Linked DNA regions of Homo sapiens: all the other regions are linked to region 1. Evidence: fine-mapped expression QTL. A gene starts in region 1. Each other region holds a variant in brackets. All regions are shown on one strand. Distances are between the middles of the regions.

Region 1 (5,372 bases):
GATCATCTGAGGTCAGGAGCTTGAGACCAGCCTGGCCAACATGGTGAAACCCCGTCTCTACTAAAAATACAAAAATATTAGCTGGGCGTGGTGGCAGGTGCCTGTAATCCCAGCTACTTGGGAGGCTGAGTCAGGAGAATTGCTTGAACCAGGAGGTGGAGGTTGCACTGAGCCGAGATTGCACCATTGCACTCCAGCCTGGGCGACAGAGCAAGACTCTGTCTTAAAAAAAAAAAAAAAAAAAAAAAAAAAGGAAGCATTGCAGGACACAGCAAGATGCCATCTCTACAAATACAAAAAAAAATTAAAAATTAGCTGGGCATGGTTGTGCATGCCTATCTACAGTCCCCAGCTATTCAGGAGGCTGAGGTGGGAGGATCAATGGAGCCCAGGAGGTCGAGGCTGCAGTGAGCTGTGATCCCACCACCACACCACAGACTGGGCAACAGAGCGAGACTTTGTCTGAAAAAACAAACAAACAAACAAACAAAAGAAGCAGCACTGCAGGTAGAGCAGCTCTTTACCTTTTTTTTTTTTTTCTGAGATGGAGTCTCGCTCTGTCACCAGGCTGGAGTGCAGTAGCTCTGTCTCGGCTCACTGCAACCTCTGCCTCCCGGGTTCAAGCAATTCTGCCTCAGCCTCCCGAGTAGCTGGGACTACAGGCGTGCACCACCACGCCCAGCTAATTTCTGTATTTTTAGTAGAGATGAGGTTTTACCATGTTGGCCAGGATGGTCTCGATCTCTTGACCTCATGATCCGCCAGCCTCGGCCTCCCAAAGTGCTGGGATTACAGGCGTGAGCCACTGTGCCCAGCTGAGCAGGTCTTTACTTTTACACAAGTCTAGAAGGATCTATCCTGCTTCAGAAGCAAGATGATGGCACTTGGGCCTGAGATGTGCCATGAGAAACCAAGCCTAGGTTTCTTCCAAGCATAATACCAGATGGGAGGGCCAGGCGTGGTGGCTCACGCCTGTAATCCCAACACTCTGGGAGGCCAAAGCAAGGGGAATGCTTGAGCCCAGGAGTTTAAGACCAGCCTGGGCAATATAGTGAGACTTTGTCTCTACTGAAAATAAAAAATAATAACAATAAATGGAAAAAACCGAAAGGCCAGATGAGAACATCTTGATATACATAACATCTCCTTTCATAGGCAAAAACCACCATCATTACTGCAAATTTGCACTATTCTACCTATTGCTGTATTCCCTGCATCTTGTAAATGCTGGTTCCCTGGGAACACTGGCTCACACCTGTAATCCTAGCATTTTGGGAGGCCAAGGCAAGAGGATCACTTGAGGTCAGGAATTTGAGACCAGCCTGACCAACATAGTGAAACCCTGTCTCTACTAAAAATACAAAAAAATTAAGCCAGGTGTGGTGGTGCACGCCTGTAATCTCAGCTACTTGGGAGGCTGAGGCAGGAGAATCGCTTGAACCCGGGAGGCAGAGGTTGCGGTGAGCCGAGATTGTGTCACTGCACTCCAGCCTGGGCGACAGAACAAGACTCTGTCTCAAAAAAATAAAAAAAATTTTAAAAAATGCTAGTCCCCTCTTGCTCGATCTTTGTTTCCCCTTTCTCCACACTCCTCACCCCCACCCCCAAAAAAAGGAAAAAAACAAACAAACAAACAAAAAAACACAGAACATTGCTCACCAGACAGAATGGCTGCAGGGAAGAAGACGCCCTACATTTTCTATCATAGCAGTAACAAACCTTGGGTGTCACCAACCTTATCATCCGTTCACCAACCAATGCCTGTCCAGAGGGGTCACACTACTTAGATAAGGATGGATGGTTCTAACGTTTAAAGAATCCTGCCACTATGAGAAAGGCACTGAGCTGGAACCCACATAGGAGGATCAGACCACTGTCCCTGGCACTGAAGTGCCCCTCAGGAAGGTAGAGGCCAAAGCACAGGAAAAGTGAATGGGTAAAATAACACAAAAGATGTCACAAGTTGTTGACAAGTTGAGGACTTTGGGGTCACAGTGCCCAGAGGTGTCTGGTGCAGCTCCAGAGAATTTAAGCCAGACTCCCAGAGACCTGGGGGCAGCACAGTGTTGCTTTCTGCATGGCCGGGTGTGAATTCTGCTCCTACCATTAACTAGTGTGACATCAGTGTCACGTTGATGATATTTCATCAACTTTACACCACCGCTCGCTTGCGGGAATAATAAGCCCAAACATCCACTTCAAGGGATGTTGGGATGCAGAAGTGAAAATAGTGGCTGTTTAGCATATACCTGGATCTACCTCTTGTATAATATATGTCATCTATCAGAACCCATCTTGTTTCAATATCGCCTAAGAACGTCCTGCTGAGATTCTGTCCCATACCCAGAATGAAAGCTCTACCATCTATCCTGAACCTCTCCTTGCTGCCACCCTGTTCCATGCTCCGGGTACAGGCAGAAGTGCTCAGCGCCGCACCCGCTGCCTCCCTAAACATCCCAGGCTATCGGGAGCACCTCTCCTCCTGCTCCCACCTCTGCCTGACCACACGACGCCCCAAGCTGGGTCCGGACGCCTTCCCTCCCCGTCGGCAGCGCTCCCTGTGGTCCCTGTGCCTGCTCCTGGGGCCCTGACGCCCACCCTGCCACTCACCTGATATACGGGAGGAAGGGGTTGACGTGCCCGGAGAGCACGGCGACCACGTAGGAGATAATGAAGGCGGCTGACGACCAGGTCACCAAGAGGAAGGGGACGAAAGCCATTCCCCTCAGGAAGCACAGCATCGCGCCGCCGCCGCCGCCGACGGAGTGCTGCGCCCAGCGGGGCCGGGCGCCGGGTTGCTCCGGGCTGCCTGGAGGCGGCGGCCGGGCGCGTACACTCACGGACGGTGGGAGGGGAGGCTCCGCGACGGCCGGGGCAGGCCCAGCCCCGGAGGGAGGGGAAGCGCGAGGAGCGGAGCGAGGCTGCGGGCGGCGAGGCTGCCGGGCCAGAGTGGGTGGGGCGCGGGCTGCCCGGGCTTGTTGCGAAACGAGTGAAGTCACAAAGCGGCCCGGCAGGGTCGGAGGCGCCCGGCGAGCTCCAAGCGGACGCGACTACGGAGCCGCCGGAGGGGACGCGGGGTCGGGTTCCTTTCGCTTTTGGTTTGGACACTCGGCGGAGGCCGGGTTGGGCGCGGACGGGCGGCGTGGGGTCACTGGCGGGGACGCCCGCTCTGGCCTTCCCACTCTGGCCCTACCGCGCTGGCTCTTGCGCAACTCTGGAGAAAAGGATTTATTTCTCCCAACCCCTCCCTCCCGGGGGATTTCCGGAGTGCCGGGCCTCGCACCCCGAGGGCGCCCCCTCCGAGGTCCCGCCGCCGGCGCTTCGCAGCAGTGAGAGTGGCCACCGCGTGGTGACACCCATGCCATCCGGTCGCGCTGCTGCTGCGGGGGTCGGGCAGAAGTGTTCAATGAGGTTCGCCAGGTCACGGGGCGCAGATGTGGCTCCCACCTCAATGGTGAACACCCGAAAACCCAGACAGGGTGGGAACGGGTGGGGTGGAGAGTACGCGGGTGGGGTGCGGGGCAGGCGGGTGGGACTGCGCGCCCACGGAGCCGGGAGGCCCATTGTGCTGCTTTCCAGGAGAGCGCAACTGGAGAATATTTCCTGGAAATAAGATTTCCCAGGCCGGGCGCCGTGAATAGCCATCACTTTGGGAGGCATCCAAAAGCCATCACCCCTGGAATGCCACCACTTTGGGAGGCCGAGTTGGGAGGATCGCTTGAACCCAAGAACTAGAGATCAGCCTGGGTAACATAGCGAAACCCCTCTTCTACAAAAAAAAAAAAAAAAAATGAAAAAGAAAAAAAGCCGGTTCCAGTTACTCGGGAGACTGAGTTGGGATGATCACTTGAGCCTTGGGGGTCGAGGCTGCAGTGAGCCTTTATCACACCACTTCACTCGGCCTGGGTGACAGAGCAAGACCTTGTCTCAAAAAACAAACAAACAAAAAAAAAACAAAAAAAACTCCCCTCCAGGTTCTGGAGTAGCCCAGACTCGGAGCCTTGGCCTAAGATGATTAATAGTGACTTGATACATTTCAAGCCCTGTGAAAGGGATTTGTGTTCTGGAGGCACTTATAATATAAGCACATGATTTTGATAGTTTAGGGAGTCTGAGCCCAACATATGTGGCCAAAATTGTTGGGTCATTGGTGACCAAAGATAGGTTCCTTTCAGCCACAAACACATTTCATGGGCGCCATGCTAGGCTACAAAGATGAAATAGTAATAGTACCCTCAGGACGAGGACACTCATAGATCAAAATAACAAAATTAGGCCAGGCGTGGTGGCTCATGCCTGTAATCCTAGCACTTTGGGAGGCCAAGGTGGGTGGATCACCTGAGGTCAGGAGTTCGAGACCAGCCTGGCCAACATGGTGAAACCCCATCTCTACTAAAAATACAAAAAATTAGTCAGGCATCATGGCTCACGCCTGTAATCCCAGCTACTCAGGAGGCTGAGGCAGGAGAATCGCTTGAACCTGGGAAATGGAGGTTTTCTCAGTGAGCTGAGATCACACCACTGCATTTCAGCCTGGGTGAGAGAACGAGACTCTGTCTCAAAAATATAAATAAATAAAAACAAAATTATGTTATGTGGTTTATTAAATGGAAAGGAGAGGATTTTAAAAAGTAGAGACATGCCCAGAGCTGAGGGCCAGGGGCCTGGGCTCAGAGGAAGGACCACGGAGGTTTTCTGACAGATGACATCAGAGTTTTCAAAAGGAAGTAATTACTAACCAGGCAAAGAAAAATAAGATTAGCATTCCAGGCCCAGAAAACAACTGGAGGAAATGCATACACAGAGCTTGCTTCCCTGGGACTATGAAAGCACTTAAATAAGTGTGAGGCAGCAAATGGAGAGAGAAACAAAGAGGCAAAGTCACCAGAGTCCTGCTGAGAATCTTGGATTATTTTTGGTATTAAGGAGAAAGTAAGAACATGGGCAGACTAGTATTTCAAGAGATCACTGTGGCCGTGGAGTGAGTGCCCGCCATACAAAACAAAATAGAAAATTTAAAATAAGGCTTTTTAAAAACCACAAAAGCTGGCCAGGCATGGTAGCTCACAGTTCTGTAATCCCGGCGCTTTGGGAGGCCGAAGCCTGGACAATATAGTGAGACCCGCAACCATATCTACAAAAAATTTAAAAATTAGCTGGGTGTGGTGTTGCATAACCTGTGGTTCCAGCTACATGAGAGGCTTACGTGGGAGGCTCACTTGAGCCCGGAGTTTGAGGCTGCAGTGAGCTATGATCACACCACTGAACTCCAGCCTGGATCACAGATCGAGACTCTATTTCAAAAACAAATAAAAATTTAAAAATGGTCAGGTGCAATGTAATCCCAGCACTTTAGGAGGTTGAGGCAGGCA
Region 2 (5,000 bases), 44 kb before region 1:
CTAACACAGTGAAACCCCATCTCTACTAAAATACAAAAAATTAGCTGGGCGTGGTGGTGGGCGCCTGTAGTCCCAGCTACTCGGGAGGCTGAGGCAGGAGAATCCCTTGAACCCAGGAGGCAGAGGTTGCAGTGAGCCGAGATCGCGCCACTGCACTCCAGCCTGGGCAACAGAAAGAGACTCCATCTCAAAAACAGAAAAACAAATTTTAAAATAAATATTTCATTTCATTTAACTATTTCAGCCATAAGGTACAAGGAAATGCAAGTTCATGGATATTAGAAATAATACCAAAATCCGAATAAGACCGGGTTTAGAGGTCGCATGGAATCTGCTGAATATGGTTGTCTGGAGTGATTTTTTTGGCCTTCTCAGTTTGCCAAGACAGGTAGGTGTACCATTTGGTCTAGCCCGTGTAACAATTTTCTGTGGTAACTGTCCAGGTTGAAGATTGTTGTCATAGAATGGTGATGCCGAAACAACTGAAATGTTTACAGTACACAAAGAAAAACAGTCAACATTACCAGGCGATACAGACTATTTGTTTATTATGAAACTAACTGGTAAAGCAGAGTAAATCCCATTCTATATTATAGCACTACAAACATCCTTAGTCATTCCTTCATTTGTTCATTCATTCATTCATGCATTCAGTGAGTATTTCTTAAGCTCCTACAGTGTACCAGGAGGCACTCTGTTCATTGTGGCATTACAAAGATAAAGATTAAGGCACGTACTCTGCCCTCAAGGAGCTCCCAATCTAATTGTGCAGAGAGATGTGAAAATGAAGCATGAAACTCCATCGTGAGGAGCGCCGAGAACAAAAGTCTGCTCGAAGTGAGGCAGAAGTATGGATTCATTCCACCACAGGTCCCATGGGAAAGGTATGTGGCATTTCTCCTCCTCTTCAGAATAATGAATGCTTGACATAGCTTTCATCACTGTCTTTCAGTTCCAGTGTTACAAGGGGGATCCCCAGCACTACAGTGAGTCGCAGTGAACCCAGAAATGATTAGCATTCTCTTTATTCATTTATTTATTTATTTATTTTTGAGACAGGGTCTCACTCTGTTGCCCAGACTGGAGTGCATTGGCATGGCTCACTGCAGCCTCCACCTCCTGGGCTCAGGTGATTCTCCCACCTCAGCCTCCCAAGTAACTAGGACTACAGGCACACCACCGCACTTGGCTAATTTTTGTATTTTTGTTGTAGAGATGGGATTTTGCCATGTTTCCCAGTCTGGTCTCGAAGTCCCAGGCTCAAGCAATCCTCCTGCCTAGGCCTCCCAAAGTGCTGGGAATACAGGTGTGAGCCACCACAGCCAGCCAGCATTCTTAATGTTTTCTTACAAAGGTGTATCTCTGTCAAACTCTTCCATTCACTTAAAGAAAACCATTTATGATGCGTCTTAAAGAAAGCATGCTTACATTTGCCTTTTATTGCCAGATTTCTCTACTTGGCTTTATTAAAGGGCCCAAATGGCAGCGGTAGGGGTGTCGGACATGTTCTAATAACATATGCTAAACACATAGAGGGGAGGCAGCTTGTCATTGCAGAGGTACCTGCCACTGAGCCTCACCCCTTTACTCACCCAACAAATAGTTAATGAGGAGCTACCCCGAACTCCCTACACCCCCATGCCCTCCGAAGCTGTCTACATGGGCTGCTCTGCCCTTGGCATGTGCCCTTGAGGGCTGATCTCACTTGGCCACACATGGGTTTATGCTCTAGGATTTGAAAGAGAGAATTCCTGCTCTTCACCTTTCAAGCCTAAGCCTTAACATTTCAAGGGCTGCTTCTTCCTCTGGAATAACTTGCTTTTTATTGGTCATTCATGATTTGGGTGAAAAGATGGAGTCTGTAGTTCTTGCTTAACACAAAGGGCTTGACTTATATTTCTTA[T/C]AGTGTTGTGGGACATCCAGCCACAGGCATGAAGAGAAGGAGCAAATAAACAGTACCCTGAACCCAGAAGTTCTTCTTGGCTGCCCCCTTCTCCATTCTTCTTGTCTCGCTCTTGGGCCTTTCTTCTCTTTGCCACATTTACTGGCATGAAATGAATTTGAGATGTGAGCTTCAGTTCTGAGTCAGACTATATATCAAGTTGTGCCAGCAACAATAAAGGATGGTTTTCACCTGACTTGTTGAAACCATTCCACCTGGCATTACACCCACTACGAATGGGCAATTAGCAGCAAGAGCAAAAGGTGCGACCTCATGAGCAGGGAGAAACAAGGTGGCAGAATTTCAAAACCAAGGTCTTCCGTATTCACTTAGAGTTACTGTACATGGTGGTATAAAGGCCTCTCAGTAGAAGCACTTTGTTTAGTTCGGCTAAAAATCAGAGTATCTTAGTGTTAATGTATCAACTAAATCTTTATGATTTGGGTATATGATCTTTATAAATTGAATTTTATAAGTGCTCTCCTGATAAAAAAAATTATACAGTTCATTCACTAAGAATAAAATTTACAAATGAATATCCCCTGATTTCACTTTGTAATAAATGTACTGAACCTGAATTACTCATTTAGTGTATTTCCATAAATCTCACACAAATAAAACAAAAACGACAGAATCTGTACAAAAATAAGAGCTCTCCATTTTTTGTAACACCTTATTTTTTCTGTATATGAATTTGTTAATATAAAAAAATCTACTTAGAAAATTATAAAAACATCACTACAGTGTCATAAGGCTGTACATTCTCTAGGAAACACATCTTTAGAAATACAACTATTAGGAACTCGTAATGAAATTCAAGTCCTGGATGTGCTGCAGATGCATCCCAATAATCAGGGTGGCCTCAAAACCCTGTCTGTCCTCTGTAGCACTTTTAGAAATGGCCTGCGACATTCACTGAGTGAGACTGAATTCTTCTTTCTTCAAATATCACCATTGATTTCTGTGGATATCCTTAGGGTGACACTCTATTTTTAAAAATGAAAGAGAAAGGTTTAAAAGAAGTTAAACAATCCCAGCGTTGACAATGACATTTCCAACAGCTCTGCACCACCTAAGGAATGATCTCACTATGGTTTGTGCTATGCTTGAGTCAGGTCCTAAAGAATTTTCTTGGCTTTCTATATCCTTTGAGCTAATAATTCACTTGTTTCAAAATGTAAGATTTTTCCTGTGGACAAATCTGATATAGTCCCATCTTCTATCTGCTTTGGGAATGTTTTTTGAACAACACACTTTTATTTTTTATTTATTCATTTATTTATTTATTTTGAGATAGAGTCTCGCTCTTGTTGCCCAAGCTGGAGTGCAATGGCATGATCTCAGCTCACGACAACCTCCGCCTCCCGGGTTCAAGTGATTCTCCTGCCTCAGCCTCCTGAGTAGCTGGGAATACAGGCATGTGCCACCACCCCCAGCTAATTTTGTATTTTTAGTAGAGACGGGGTTTCTCCATGTTGGTCAGGCTGGTCTCGAACTCCTGACCTCAGGTGATCTGCCCGCCTCGGCCTCCCAAAGTGCTGGGATTACAGATGTGAACCACCACACCTGGCATACTTTTATTTTTAAAAAAGATATATTTACTTTGTATTATTTGGAACTAGTAAGTGAGACCTCCTAAAAGAAAACAACCAGGATACATGACTATTAACATCAAACAGCAGAGGACATATGAAAATCTCATTGGTGGGAGAGCTATTAAAGATGCCTCCCATTGGGAATAAGCTAACACATGAAGTTGCACAATCCTTACAGATTTTTCTCAAACACATTAAGGATAAAAAGAAAGTGCTCTTTTTGCAGTGAGCCGAGATTGCGCCACTGCAGTCCGCAGTCCGGCCTGGGCGACAGAGCGAGACTCCGTCTCAAAAAAAAAAAAAAAAAAAGAAAGTGCTCTTTTTAAAAATGCAAAATGTCTTCTGCAAATTTTTACTAATCCTAATTGTCCGCAATTTAAAACATTTGAATTGATAAACACCTACCTGGAAATCTTGGATGAAAGTTAGGAAGTAGAAAATAAAACCAAAGGCCACTGTCCATTCACAGATCGCACTCACTACGTGATATACATAATCCTAATGCAATAATAAAGAAACAGAATTTAGCCGAAAAAGACTCACTTTAATGTACATACTGAAATACAATGAGGAGTTTCAACCAAAGGAAAAAGCTGTCCAGTGAGCATAAGTCAGAACTTTGAGGATATACGGTAAGCACAACCACGTTACTAAGTGTCAGGGCACCTGCCCACTGAGAATGCGAAGGCAGGTATTCCAAAGTTCTTTCTGGCTCGCACAAACTCTTGTTTTAAGATTTAGTTTGTCACTTCAAAAGGTAGACTAAGGACTGCAAAATGGCTGAGACTGGGAAGCAAATTTGGACTCAACAGAAGAAAGAAATTTCCATACAAGGCATGACTTGGTCTCGCTCTGCTGAGAATCCCTAAGTGTAAGGCTATGCTTAACAAGCACTCTCGCAGTTGTTCCAAAGAAAGTGTGTACACATCTAGATGAACTTGGCCAACTAGTCCCCTAGGTTTCGTGTTTCCCTGTTTATATAGAAATGATCATTCAGGAAATAGTTCTGCTTAACATCCCAAGGTAAATACAGCTACAAAGAAAATGCTAATAATGGACATCCACATGTTAACTGTATATCTTCTTGGAGGCAAGAATGGGAGAATGGAAGCCAAGGAGAATGGCTTCAATCAGATGTTCCAAACTCAGTTGCCTATGGAGGCCAGAAAATTAACAATAATAAATAAAACTGATGGTTGTGAAAAGAGAGGGAAGTTAGGGAGCCCACGCCTCATCAGCTCAATTCCATGGGAAAATAATACACTAGTGTTGCTTTCAAAGGGGTTTAAAAAAACAAAACCGTGTGTGTGTGTGTGTGTGTGCGTGTGTGTGTCTGTGTGTCTGTGGATGTGTCTGTGTGTGATATCTCCTGATTTTTCAGTGCTGGAAACTAATTTTAAAACTCTGTTGCAATGGCTCACACCTGTAATCTCAGCACTTTGGAAGGCTGAGGCAGGAGGATC
Region 3 (5,372 bases), 23 kb after region 1:
AGTGGGCCAAGATGGTGACACTGCACTCCAGCCTAGGTGACAGAGTGAGACTGTCTCAAAAAAAAAAAAAAAAAGGATCAGTGAATATTAATCATTAATTGAGCCAGGGAATAGAAGAAGTCTGGAGGATTATGAATTTGGTTTTAGACATCCAACAGTTTGAGATGTCTGTAGGACACCTAGGTGAAGACAACTGCTAGATAGTTGGAAATTGACTTGGGAAACATCAGTGGAAAGGGGTTGGTATATATGAGATTACCAAAGAGCAAATGCTGCAGTGGAATCAGCACAAAGGGGAAAAGAAGAGGTCGGTTTGGGCAGATAAGCAGTCACTGGCAATCTTTGTAGGAATTTCAGGAGAGTGGTACAGATAGAAGCTGGATTGCATGGAACTGAAAAGTAAAGCAGTAGGTTCAGACTTCTATTCCAAGAAGATAGGTGGAGAAGCACAAGAAGACAAAATGGAGAGATACATTTGGGGGTTAGAACAGAATGCTTTCTGAGAGAGAATATGAAGACATAGCAGAAGTAAGTGATGAAGCAAGAGCAGGAGGAGGAGGAAGGAATTAATAGTAACAAAAATGTGTTTACTTCTCAGAAAATTTTCAGGTTTACCCATCTCAGCCATGTAATTCATGTGCCTGTGCTTAGACCGGATATATCATTCAGGAGTTCTTTCCATTCTGGCTAATTATAATGACCCCAAATCCTAAGGGGCTGGAGAGTTACATAATAGCACTGTAATGCATTGCAGTTCCAGTGAGAGGTTAACATGTGACTCAATGAATAACTCAGCTTGCTGACACATTTATGGACAATGAGCCATCTGAGCATTTCAGAAAAAATTATAGATCTACAGAAAGGTTCCTTAGAGGTCATCTAGTCTAATGCCTTGGATTTGTGCAAGAGGAAACTGTAAAACCAGAGAGGTAATGTGTGCATACTCACATATTATTTAGTGGCAGTCTCCTTCATAATGATCATAATCCAGGTTTTATGGTCTCATCCAGGACCTTTGTCCTCACATTTCTTTGGTTAAAGAATTAAAATAAGAGGCCGGGGGCAGTGGCTCACACCTGTAATCCCAGCACTTTGGGAGACTGAAGAGGCAGTATCACTTGAGGTCAGGAGTTCGAGACCAGCCTGGCCAACAGGGTGAAACCCCATCTCTACTAAAAATACACAAATTAGCCATGCGTGGTGTTGTGCACCTGTAGTCCCAGCTTTCAGGAGGCTGTGGCAGGAGAATCACTTGAGCCCGGGAGGTGGAGGTTGCAGTGAGCTGAGATCACGCTACTACACTCTAGCCTGGGTGACAGAGCAAGACATCATCTTTGAAAAAAAAAAAAGAATTAAAATAAGAAAAGTCTTATTTAAGATTGGCTCAAATTACTCATCAGCAGACCAAAATCTGAAGCATTAAGTATTCTGATTACTTTTTTATGTTTATTTTTTATAAACAGGTCTTTGTGGCAGAATGCATTCCAATTCCTATCAAGTGCAGTTTTCAGTGCTTTTGCTCAATTCTGTCGTTATTATGTCATCATTAATATGTATTGAGCTCCAATGTTTCAATATCAAAATTTAAATATTATGTGTTAGCCTGTTCTCATGCTGCTGTAAGGACATATCTGAGCCTGTGTAATTTATAAAGGAAAGAGGTTTAACTGGATCACAGTTCCACAGGGCTTGGGAGGCCTCAGGAAACTTATAATCATGGCAGAAGGGGAAGTAAACATGTCCTTCTTCACATGGTGGCAGCAGGAAGTGCAGAGTGAAGGTGGTGTAGGGGGGACGCTCTTTAAAACCATCAGATCTGGGGAAACTCACTCACTATCACGAGAACAGCATGGGGGTAACTGCCTCCATGATTCAATTACCTTCTACTAGGTCTCTCCCATGACACGTGGGGATTATGGGAACTCTAGTTCAAAATGAGATTTGAGTGGGGACACAGCCAGACCATATCATATATCTTAGCTATGTAAAAACATGTACTCTTGATTTTGTATAATTAATCTAAAAAGAGAAGAGGAGCAGAAGACACTCAAATTTGATAGTTAAAGGGTGATATAAATGTTGTACCTCCCCAAATAGTTTTTTCTCTATAAACTTTTTCCCGTTCTTGCAAACATTCCTCACTTTGGGACTAGGAGATGTTTATTGCCTCAGGGAAAAGAAAGAGAAGAACTAGCTTTAGGTCAAGGAAGAAAAACAAAAATTCTAAAAGGGACGTCTACCCAGAGGGAAGCCTTCCTCTGGTCTAGTGGTGCAGGGTGTAGAAGATGTGCAGGAAGAGATTAGACACCAAGACCCTTGCTTTACACATAGCTCCTTCTCCCTGTT[G/C]AAACTCAAGGGGTTGTAGTGATAAGTGTTAGCCAGCTTGCTTTAGGCAGACAGTAAGGGAAGGGTCCCCGGAGAACCTCCCACCCACCCTACAAGTGCTTACACCAGATGTTTTGTGCAGATAAGGGAACTTGCACGGGGAGCTTGCCTAAACATGCCTGCAGTGGAAAATTCCATTCCTTAACACATACACAGTAAGGGAAATAAATCAATATGGAGCTGCTCAGTCCAAGGGCCTGCATCAGCACTGGAAGGACAGGGTGGAGCCACCAGAAATTCATGCCTTAAGCCCTGGTATTCAACTGTGAAGGGGGCAACCAGTAAACTGCTTTCAGGTCCCCTCTTTTTGCTGAGAGCTTTCCTTTCACTTAATAAATTCTGCTCCACTCACTCTTCAAGTGTCTGCATGCCTAATTCTTCCTGGTTGTGAGATGAGAACCCAGACCTAGTGGTGGTAAGGAATAAAAAATCCTGCATCAGTAGCTGATTAGAAAAGTGAAAACCCAGTTTATGTTGAAGAGAGAAAATATATGTAAAGACAGATTTAACCTGACTTCTTGTTTTGAAATGGAGAGAACACCACTGCAGAGTGCACCTAGGCTTACGGTGATGTAATGGTAGCCTAATTAGCCTAATTCAACAGTGCAGACCTCCCTTGATGACTTGGAAGAGAGTCAAAAGACCCCTTTTCAGCATCCTTTTTGGGGAAGTGAAAGGTAATTGAGTGTGACCTGCCATTGGGTCACCATGAGGAAGTGGGTAGACAGGGACCTGATAACCTCTACCACATGTCTGAGGGAGGCAGTGGCTGAGCCTTGAAGGGATGCAAAAGTGAGGTCAAGTCACATTTGTAGATCAATGGGCCCTACCACAACTGATATGGTTTGGCTGTGTCCTCACCCAAATCTCACCTTGAATTGTAATAATCCCCAGGTGTCAAGGGCAGGGACAGGTGGAGATAATTGAATCATAGGGCATTTTCACCCATACTATTCCTGTGGTAGTGAATAAGTCTCTCAAGATCTGATGGTTTTATAAAGGGCAGTTTCCCTGCACAAGCTCTCTTGCCTGCCACTGTGAAAGACATGCCTTTGCTCCTCACTCGTCTACCGCCATGATAGTGAGGCCTCCCAGCCATGCGGAACTGAGTCAACTAAACCTCTTTTCTTTATAAATTACCCAGTCTCAGGTATGTCTTTACTAGCAGTGCGAGAACAGACTAATATACGCCAACCAAGAGGACAGACCAATAGTCATACTGCACACTCTAGCAGCAAATGTCCCCAGTGTCCCAGTGGCTGAGCATAACCAGGGTATCAATACTAAGTTGAGCAAAAACCTTGAAGCCTACAAGGATTCCAAAGCCTATGGAGAGACTCATTTATGGGTAAATGTGCCAAGAGTGCACATGGCTTGCCCATGGAACCCTGACACCTTGAAAAGTAAGAGAAAGAAGGATGAAATGGCTCTGATGTGGAGTTAAATATTAGATTATTTAATATTTACTCAGCAAGAGATAATCTTAACCATCTTGCAGAGACTAACGGACCTTTATTTGACAAGTTTAACTCCTGCGGCATCCTACTTCTCTGCCTTCCTCCTCCCTCAAACCAAATGGAGTTTACTGAGAATGTTTAGATCAATTATAAACAGAGACAAAGGAGTAACAGTTGTGGCCTATGGGAGTTGCGGTATTTAAATTTTTAACCTTATGCTGAGCATGGTGGCTCACACCTATAATCCCAGTATTTTGGGAAGCTGAGGCAGGTGGATCACTTGAGGCCAGGAGTTCGAGACCAGCTGGGCCAACATGGCAAAACCTGTCTCTACTAAAAATACAAAAAAAATTGGCTGGACGTGATGGCTCCTACCTGTAATCCTAGCACTTTGGGAGGCCAAGGCGGGCGGATCACCTGAGGTCAGGAGTTCGAGACCAGCCTGGCCAGCATGGCGAAACCCCGCCTCTACTAAAAATACAAAAATGAGCTGGGCGTGGTGGTGGGGAGCCTGTAATCCCAGCTACTTGGGAGGCTGAGAGAGGAGAATTGCCTGAACCCGGGAGACAGAGGTTGCAGTGAGCAGAGATCGCACCACTGCACTCCAGCCTGGGCAACAAAGAGCGAAACTCTGTCTAAACAAAAAAAAAAAAAAAAAATGAGCTGGGCGTAGGGGTGCAGGCCTGTGATCCCAGCTACTCAGGAGGCTGAGGCAGGAGAATCACTTGAACCTGGGAGGCAGAGGTTGCAGTGAGCTGAGATCACGCCACTGCACTTCAGCCTGGGTGACAGAGGAACACTGTCTCAAAAACTAATAATAATAAAATAACAAAATGAATAAATAAAATTTTAACCTTATAACACTTGCTATGTATCAGGCACCATGCTGAGATCTTTATGTGCATTATCTCATTTGATCCACACAGCAGCCTTGTAAGTTATTATTATACCCATTTTACACATGAGGAAACTGAGACTTAGAAATGATAAGAGGAGACCTGGTATCAAGTCACACTGATTGATTCCAGAGGCTATGTTTTTGATGTTTCCCTGTAGGTCTCTATGTTTTCCCTGTAGGTCAAGTAGGATACTTAATGAAAGAATAAACACTTCAATCATCACTGATTGATTGAGGTTTTATATACCACCCTAAACTTTTATGTCTCTGAAATTCCAAGTGTCATTCATTCATTCAACAAATATTTTTGAGTACTTACTATGTGTCAGTCCCTGGGCTTAGCAATAGGTGTATAATGGTTAATAAACTGCATTTGACAAAATCGGGGTGGTCACCCAAAAGGAAATCAGGATCTCTTGCCCTGATGTTGAACCTAAGTCAGTTTTCAGACCTGGTACTGGTGGACTGAAGAGGTGGCCAGGTCCCCAGAATAAAGAACCCTGAAACATCATCTTGAGTATATTCTGTAATGATTTTCAGTCCTTTATCAAAAAGACCAGTGGTCATTTACTGAGGTAGCTGTGCACTGGGGAAAGAGGAATACCCAGAGGCATTCAAGGACTATTCAACAC
Region 4 (5,186 bases), 55 kb before region 1:
CAACAGGGTTTTAAAAAAAAACTCTCCAGGTGATTCTCATGTGCAGCCAGAGTTGAAAACTGCTGCTGTACAGGGAGAAGACAGTTGAGGGTATGCAGTCGAGAGGGAGGTGGAAGGGCTATAACAGCATCTGCCATGCACAGCTCTGGCTGTGCCAGGCAAACTGCTAAGGCTGGGCATTTCAAGCTTCAATGGGCAGGCATAAGGATCACCAACAAGTTCCCAGGTGCTTTACAGGCATTGCTTCAAGGAATCCTCGTGACAAGCCTACAAGGCAGGTGCTAGCATTATTCCCACTTTACAGATAAGGGTACTGAGACACCAAGACGTTATCTGACTTGACTGAGGCGTGACAGAAAGGAAATGGTAGGTCTTGAAAATTAGGTCTTGATTCCAAAGTACTTATTCTTTAAAAAAATTATGATAAAATATACATAACATAAAATGTACCACTTTAATCATTTTAAAGTATTTACAATTTCATGGTATTCACAATGTTGTACAACTATCCATTTCCAGGAATTTTTCACCATCCCAAACAGAAACTCTTGTCCATTAAGCAATAATTCCCCATCTCCCCCTGTCCCCAGCCCCTAGTAACTTCTATTCTGCTTTTTCTTTATGAATCAAAGTACTCATTCTTAATCACTATGTTTCAGGATTGGCTCAAATATGAGATGGAGGTATCAAATTTGATCAAACTTTTTCCTTGAATTGATGGCATGTCTGAGCTAAGTGAGGCCACCATCAGCAATTTGTTCCCAAAATATGGAACAACTTGTAACTTCCCCCAAACAGCACATCCTCTTTTGCCTGTGTGCCAAAGCACATGCCAATTTGTCCAGGACATGTGCCTCTTCCCTCCTCGCCTTCATTTAGCAAACTCCATCTTCTTCTCTAAGTCTCTTGCCAGGCATGACCTCTCCTGGGGATCTGAATCAAGTGCTTCAACTAGTGTGGTCCCATAGACCAGGACTTCAAAAGCTGACATTCATTCCAATCACCTAGGGATCTTGTTAAAATGCAGATTCGCATTTACTGAGTCTGGCTCGGGGCACTAAGATTCTGCATTTCTTTCTTTCTTCAGACACAGCGTCTCACTTTGTTGCCCAGGCTGGAGCACAGTGGTGCAATCATAGCTCACTGAAGCCTCAAACTCCTGGGCTCAAGCCATCCATTCTGCTGCCTTAACTCTCAAGTAACTAGGACTACAGATGTGTGCCACCGCACCAGCTAATTTTTTTTTTTTTTTTGAGAGATGGGGTCTTGGTGTGTTGCCCAGGCAGTCCTCAATTTCTTGGCCTGAAGTGATACTCCCACCTCAGCCTCCCAAAGCTGAGATTAGAGATTTGAGCTACTGCCCTAGGACTTAGATTCTGCATTTCTACAGAGCTCCCAAGTGATAGTCATGCTGCTGGTCCCTGAACAACACCCTGAATAGTGAAGCCATAGGTTGTGGTGCTTTGCCATGGTACATATTGCTACAGCATCCCCTTGACTGTTTCTCTACTGCACTATAAATATCTTGAGGGCAAAAACTCATCTTATTATTATATTCCTGGAGCCTAACATTGTACTACCCACAGTGACAATAAATGTGAATAGAGCAATAGATAAACGAGCAAACAGCCTGGAAGGCTAGAAGGAACCAGATCTGTGAGGAACCTCATAAGCCACACTAAGAAATTTGAAATGTATCATGACATTACAGGCAGATACTGAAAGGTCTGAAAAGGGTGATAGATCAAATGTTTATGTGCAGTGTGTAAGATACGTTGGAAAGGACCAAGATTGAAGTCAAGGAAACCGTAGCAAGCTACTACACTAGTCTAAGCAAATAATTTTGAAGGCCTGAACTAAGGCAGTAATAGCAGGGAGAATGTAATGGGAAGAGGATTCAAGACCATATGGACGGGTTGACCATACATCCCCATTTGCTTCAGACAGTTTACCCTGGGTATGATTATTAGTAGTGTCCCATTTGCCCCCCAAAATGCCCTAATTTGGATGATAATTATCTATTCATACTGTACATAGGAGCCTTTTCTTTTTTTTCTTTGAGACGGAGTCTCCCTCACTCTGTCGCCCAGGCTGGAGTGCAGTGGTGCAATCTCCGCTCAATGCAACCTCCGCCTCCAGGGTTCAAGTGATTTTCCTGCCTCAGCCTCCCGAGTAGTTGGGATTAGAGGTGTGTGCCACCACGACGGCTAATTTTTGTATTTTTAGTAGAGACAGGGTTTCACTATGTTGGCCAGGCTGGTCTTGAACTCCTGACCTCAAATGATCCACCGGAGTGGGCCTCCAAAAGTGCTGGGATTACAAGTGTGAGCCACCACACCCGGCCAGGAGACAATGTTAATAGAACATGGGGTGTGGGCTTTGAGCAAAGTGAGATGTCTAGGATAATGCTCATGTTTCTGCCCTGGGTGACCCAACAGATGGTAATATCATTGACCAACCTAGGCAATCCAGGAGACAAAGCAGTAGGAGAAGTTTCTCTTTAAAATAAAAATATTTAAGTTAAGGAGCCATTGCAAAGTATTAAGTAAATTTTGGTACACAGCATGACAAGAAATTTCAAAAGAAGCACAGATGGCTG[A/TA]AGTTTGGAACACTGATGGAAGGTATCACCAAGTGAAAACATCCTCCCTCCCTGGCGCTCTGAATCAAATTAGTTTCAGAGCAATGTACTACATTAGGAAACCTTCCCTATGTGCTATTCAGACCAACTGCAGACGGGCTGTCACAAAGGCCAACGAATTCCGAGTTTTGTTTCTCACTCCTTATTCTCTTCCCTTCAAGTCATTGCTGTGAATGCTCCAAACAACTGGATCACAGTTGACTGCGGTCATTGAGACAGTCAATATAAAGATATACCAAGCCACGGCCAGGTTGAGTCTGAAGACCACATCGCTTGGTTCAACTGTCCTGAGTCAAAGGTCAGTAACACCAAAATGTTCCACCACATTTAAAAGCCTCATGACTCAAGATCCTTCCTAATCTCTACTCATATTTGCCAACATCTCAGCTTTTTTCTCCTGCCTACAACATTTCAACAAGTAGGTAATTATTTAATAAATCTCAGAACATACCTTTGCTTCTTCTGGCCAGAGACCTGGGGTTTTCCCGGTTTCAGTTTCAAGGTGGCTGTTATTTAAGGGTCCAAATGCAATCAAGCAGAAGAATAAATTCACCTGCTAGAGCCTTTTAAGAGAACTTTAAAACAAAACTGTAGCTTTTCAAGTATTAAAAGGAAATGAAAGACTGAACTAAGCTCAGTATTCATTTTAATATGCGTGTTAAAGGTTATGTTTGCAGCTGTCAAAGCACTGGCCAATTCTAAATACATCACTCTTCACCTTAAATCAGATGTCTTAGGTGGCACCCAGAACCTGCTACTCTGGGCTGACCCTGAGTAAAAGGATTGTTAAAGAAGGTGAAGTTAGTCTTCCAGGCTTTCCTGTCACTCATGCTGATATTAGCCTGATGAGCAAGGGAGAGCAAGAGAGCTGGAACCCAGGAGCCAGAGTCCTCACCACTTCCTGCTGCTGCTTCAGCTCCAAGAAGACTAACTTACATGCTGCTGATCTGATATCACATCCATACATGTGACAAGACTGAGGACTGAGGAAAACAACCCAATTCAAAAACGAACTGAACAGATGTTTCTCCAAAGAAGATATATAGGTGACCAATAAGCACATGAAAAAATGACCAACATCATTAATTCTTAGGGAAATGCAAACCAAAATACTATGAGATATCACCTCACACCCATTAGGAAGGCTACTAACCAAAAAAATGGAAAATATGTCAGGTGCTATGGTTTGTGCCTGTAATCCCAGCTACTTTAGAGGCTGAGGCATGAGGATCTCTTGAGCCAAGGAATTGGAGGCCAGCGTGGGTAACATACCAAGACCCTCAAATCTCAAATAAATAAATAAATAGGAAAAAACAAATGTTGGCGAGGATGTGAAGAAATTAGAATCCTTGTGCACTGTTGGTGGGACTGTAAAATGGTACAGCTGCTATGGAAAACAGTATGGTGGTTCCTCAAAAAATTAAAAATAGAATTTCCATATGATCCAGCAATCCCACTTCTTGGTATATACCCAGAAGAATTTAAAGCAGGGTCTCAAAGAAATATTTGTACACACATGTTTGTAGCAGCATTATTCACAATGTGGAAGCAACTGAAGTGTCCATCAACAGATGATTGGTAAACAAAGTGGGTATAAATGTACAATGGAATCTTACTAAGCCTTAATATGGAAAAAATTCCAACACATGCTACAACATGGATGGTGCTGAGACATTACGCTAAATGAAATAAGCCAGTCACAAAAAGAGAAATGCTGTATGATTCCACTTATATGAGGTATCTAGAATAGTCAAAATCATAGAGCCAGAAAGTAGAATAATGGTTGCCAGGGGCTGGGGCAAGAGGGAATCAGGAGTTATTGTTCAATGGGCACAGAGTTTCAGTTTTACAAGATGAAGAGGGTTCTGGAGATGGATGGTGGTGATGGTTGCACAACATTATGAATGTATTCAAAACCACTGAACTGCACACTTAAAAATGGCTACGACGGCCAGGCGTGCGTGGTGGTGGCTCACGCCTATAATCCTAACACTTTGGGAGGCCCAGACAAAAGGATCTCTTGAGTCCAGGAGTTTGAGGCCAGCCTAGGCAACATAGTGAGACCCTATCGCTACAAAAAATACAAAAATTAGCCAAGCACGGTGGTGCACACCTGTAGTCCCAGCTACTTGGGAGGCTGAGGTGGGAGGATCACTTGAGCCCAGAGGTTGAGGCTGCAGTGAGCCAAGATCACACCACTGCACTCCAGTCTGGGTGGCAGAGTGAGATCTGTCTCAAAAAAAAAAAATCACCAAGATGATAAAATTTATGTTATATTTTACCACAGTAAAGTAATAATAATGGTCACCAAGAGTGTTCAAACATAATAATAAAATGATAATAGTAATAAATTAAAATAACTTTTTTAAAAAGTGAGCACTGAGGACTTCTTTTACCCAGCCCTGTGATAGCCTAGATGGTCCTTTCCCTGGGCCTCACCATGACTTCTCCTTTGGGAAGTCCAGACAGACGGACGACAACCCCCAGTCCCTCTTACCGCACCATCCAGAAGCAAAAGATACCAGGAGTTGAGAGTCATAAGAACCCA

Alleles and levels. Positions count from the first base shown, and alleles are read on the strand shown. Sizes are in standard deviations (SD) of each study's normalised expression. Not every link is listed here.
With allele C in place of G in region 3, the expression in lymphoblastoid cells of the gene that starts at base 2,951 in region 1 is lower (large effect, 0.85 SD a copy in TwinsUK).

What was found. PIP is the estimated chance that this variant, and not a neighbour inherited with it, causes the effect. A credible set is the group of variants that fine-mapping cannot tell apart.
Region 2: its variant is the best candidate, but not a certain one, in a credible set for the expression of DRAM1 in whole blood (INTERVAL, PIP 0.87).
Region 3: its variant is the best candidate, but not a certain one, in a credible set for the expression of DRAM1 in lymphoblastoid cells (TwinsUK, PIP 0.61).
Region 4: its variant is the best candidate, but not a certain one, in a credible set for the expression of DRAM1 in skeletal muscle (GTEx, PIP 0.67).

What each region holds. Positions count from the first base shown.
Region 1 is chr12:101,875,159-101,880,530 of GRCh38, reverse strand. DRAM1 (DNA damage regulated autophagy modulator 1) reads right to left here and starts at 2,951. Exons shown (of 7, transcript NM_018370.3): 1 at 2,611-2,951. The coding sequence starts at 2,741. RefSeq lists enhancers at 2,065-2,114, 2,255-2,344, 1,983-2,764, 2,925-2,974, 2,765-3,547 and silencers at 2,565-2,904, 3,155-3,314.
Region 2 is chr12:101,919,144-101,924,143 of GRCh38, reverse strand. It overlaps DRAM1 (DNA damage regulated autophagy modulator 1), which reads right to left. Exons shown (of 7, transcript NM_018370.3): 6 at 3,943-4,035; 7 at 532-2,928. The coding sequence ends at 2,884. Among named protein-coding and RNA genes, the nearest start is that of DRAM1-AS1, 43 kb to the left of the region's middle. RefSeq lists an enhancer at 1-800. The variant T/C (reference allele first, on the strand shown) is at 1,904.
Region 3 is chr12:101,852,635-101,858,006 of GRCh38, reverse strand. No RefSeq gene overlaps it. Among named protein-coding and RNA genes, the nearest start is that of DRAM1, 22 kb to the left of the region's middle. RefSeq lists cis regulatory regions at 2,069-2,745, 2,998-3,215 and an enhancer at 2,725-3,224. The variant G/C (reference allele first, on the strand shown) is at 2,347.
Region 4 is chr12:101,930,014-101,935,199 of GRCh38, reverse strand. No RefSeq gene overlaps it. Among named protein-coding and RNA genes, the nearest start is that of DRAM1-AS1, 32 kb to the left of the region's middle. RefSeq lists enhancers at 3,060-3,169, 3,530-3,649, 4,469-4,548 and a silencer at 4,759-4,808. The variant A/TA (reference allele first, on the strand shown) is at 2,600.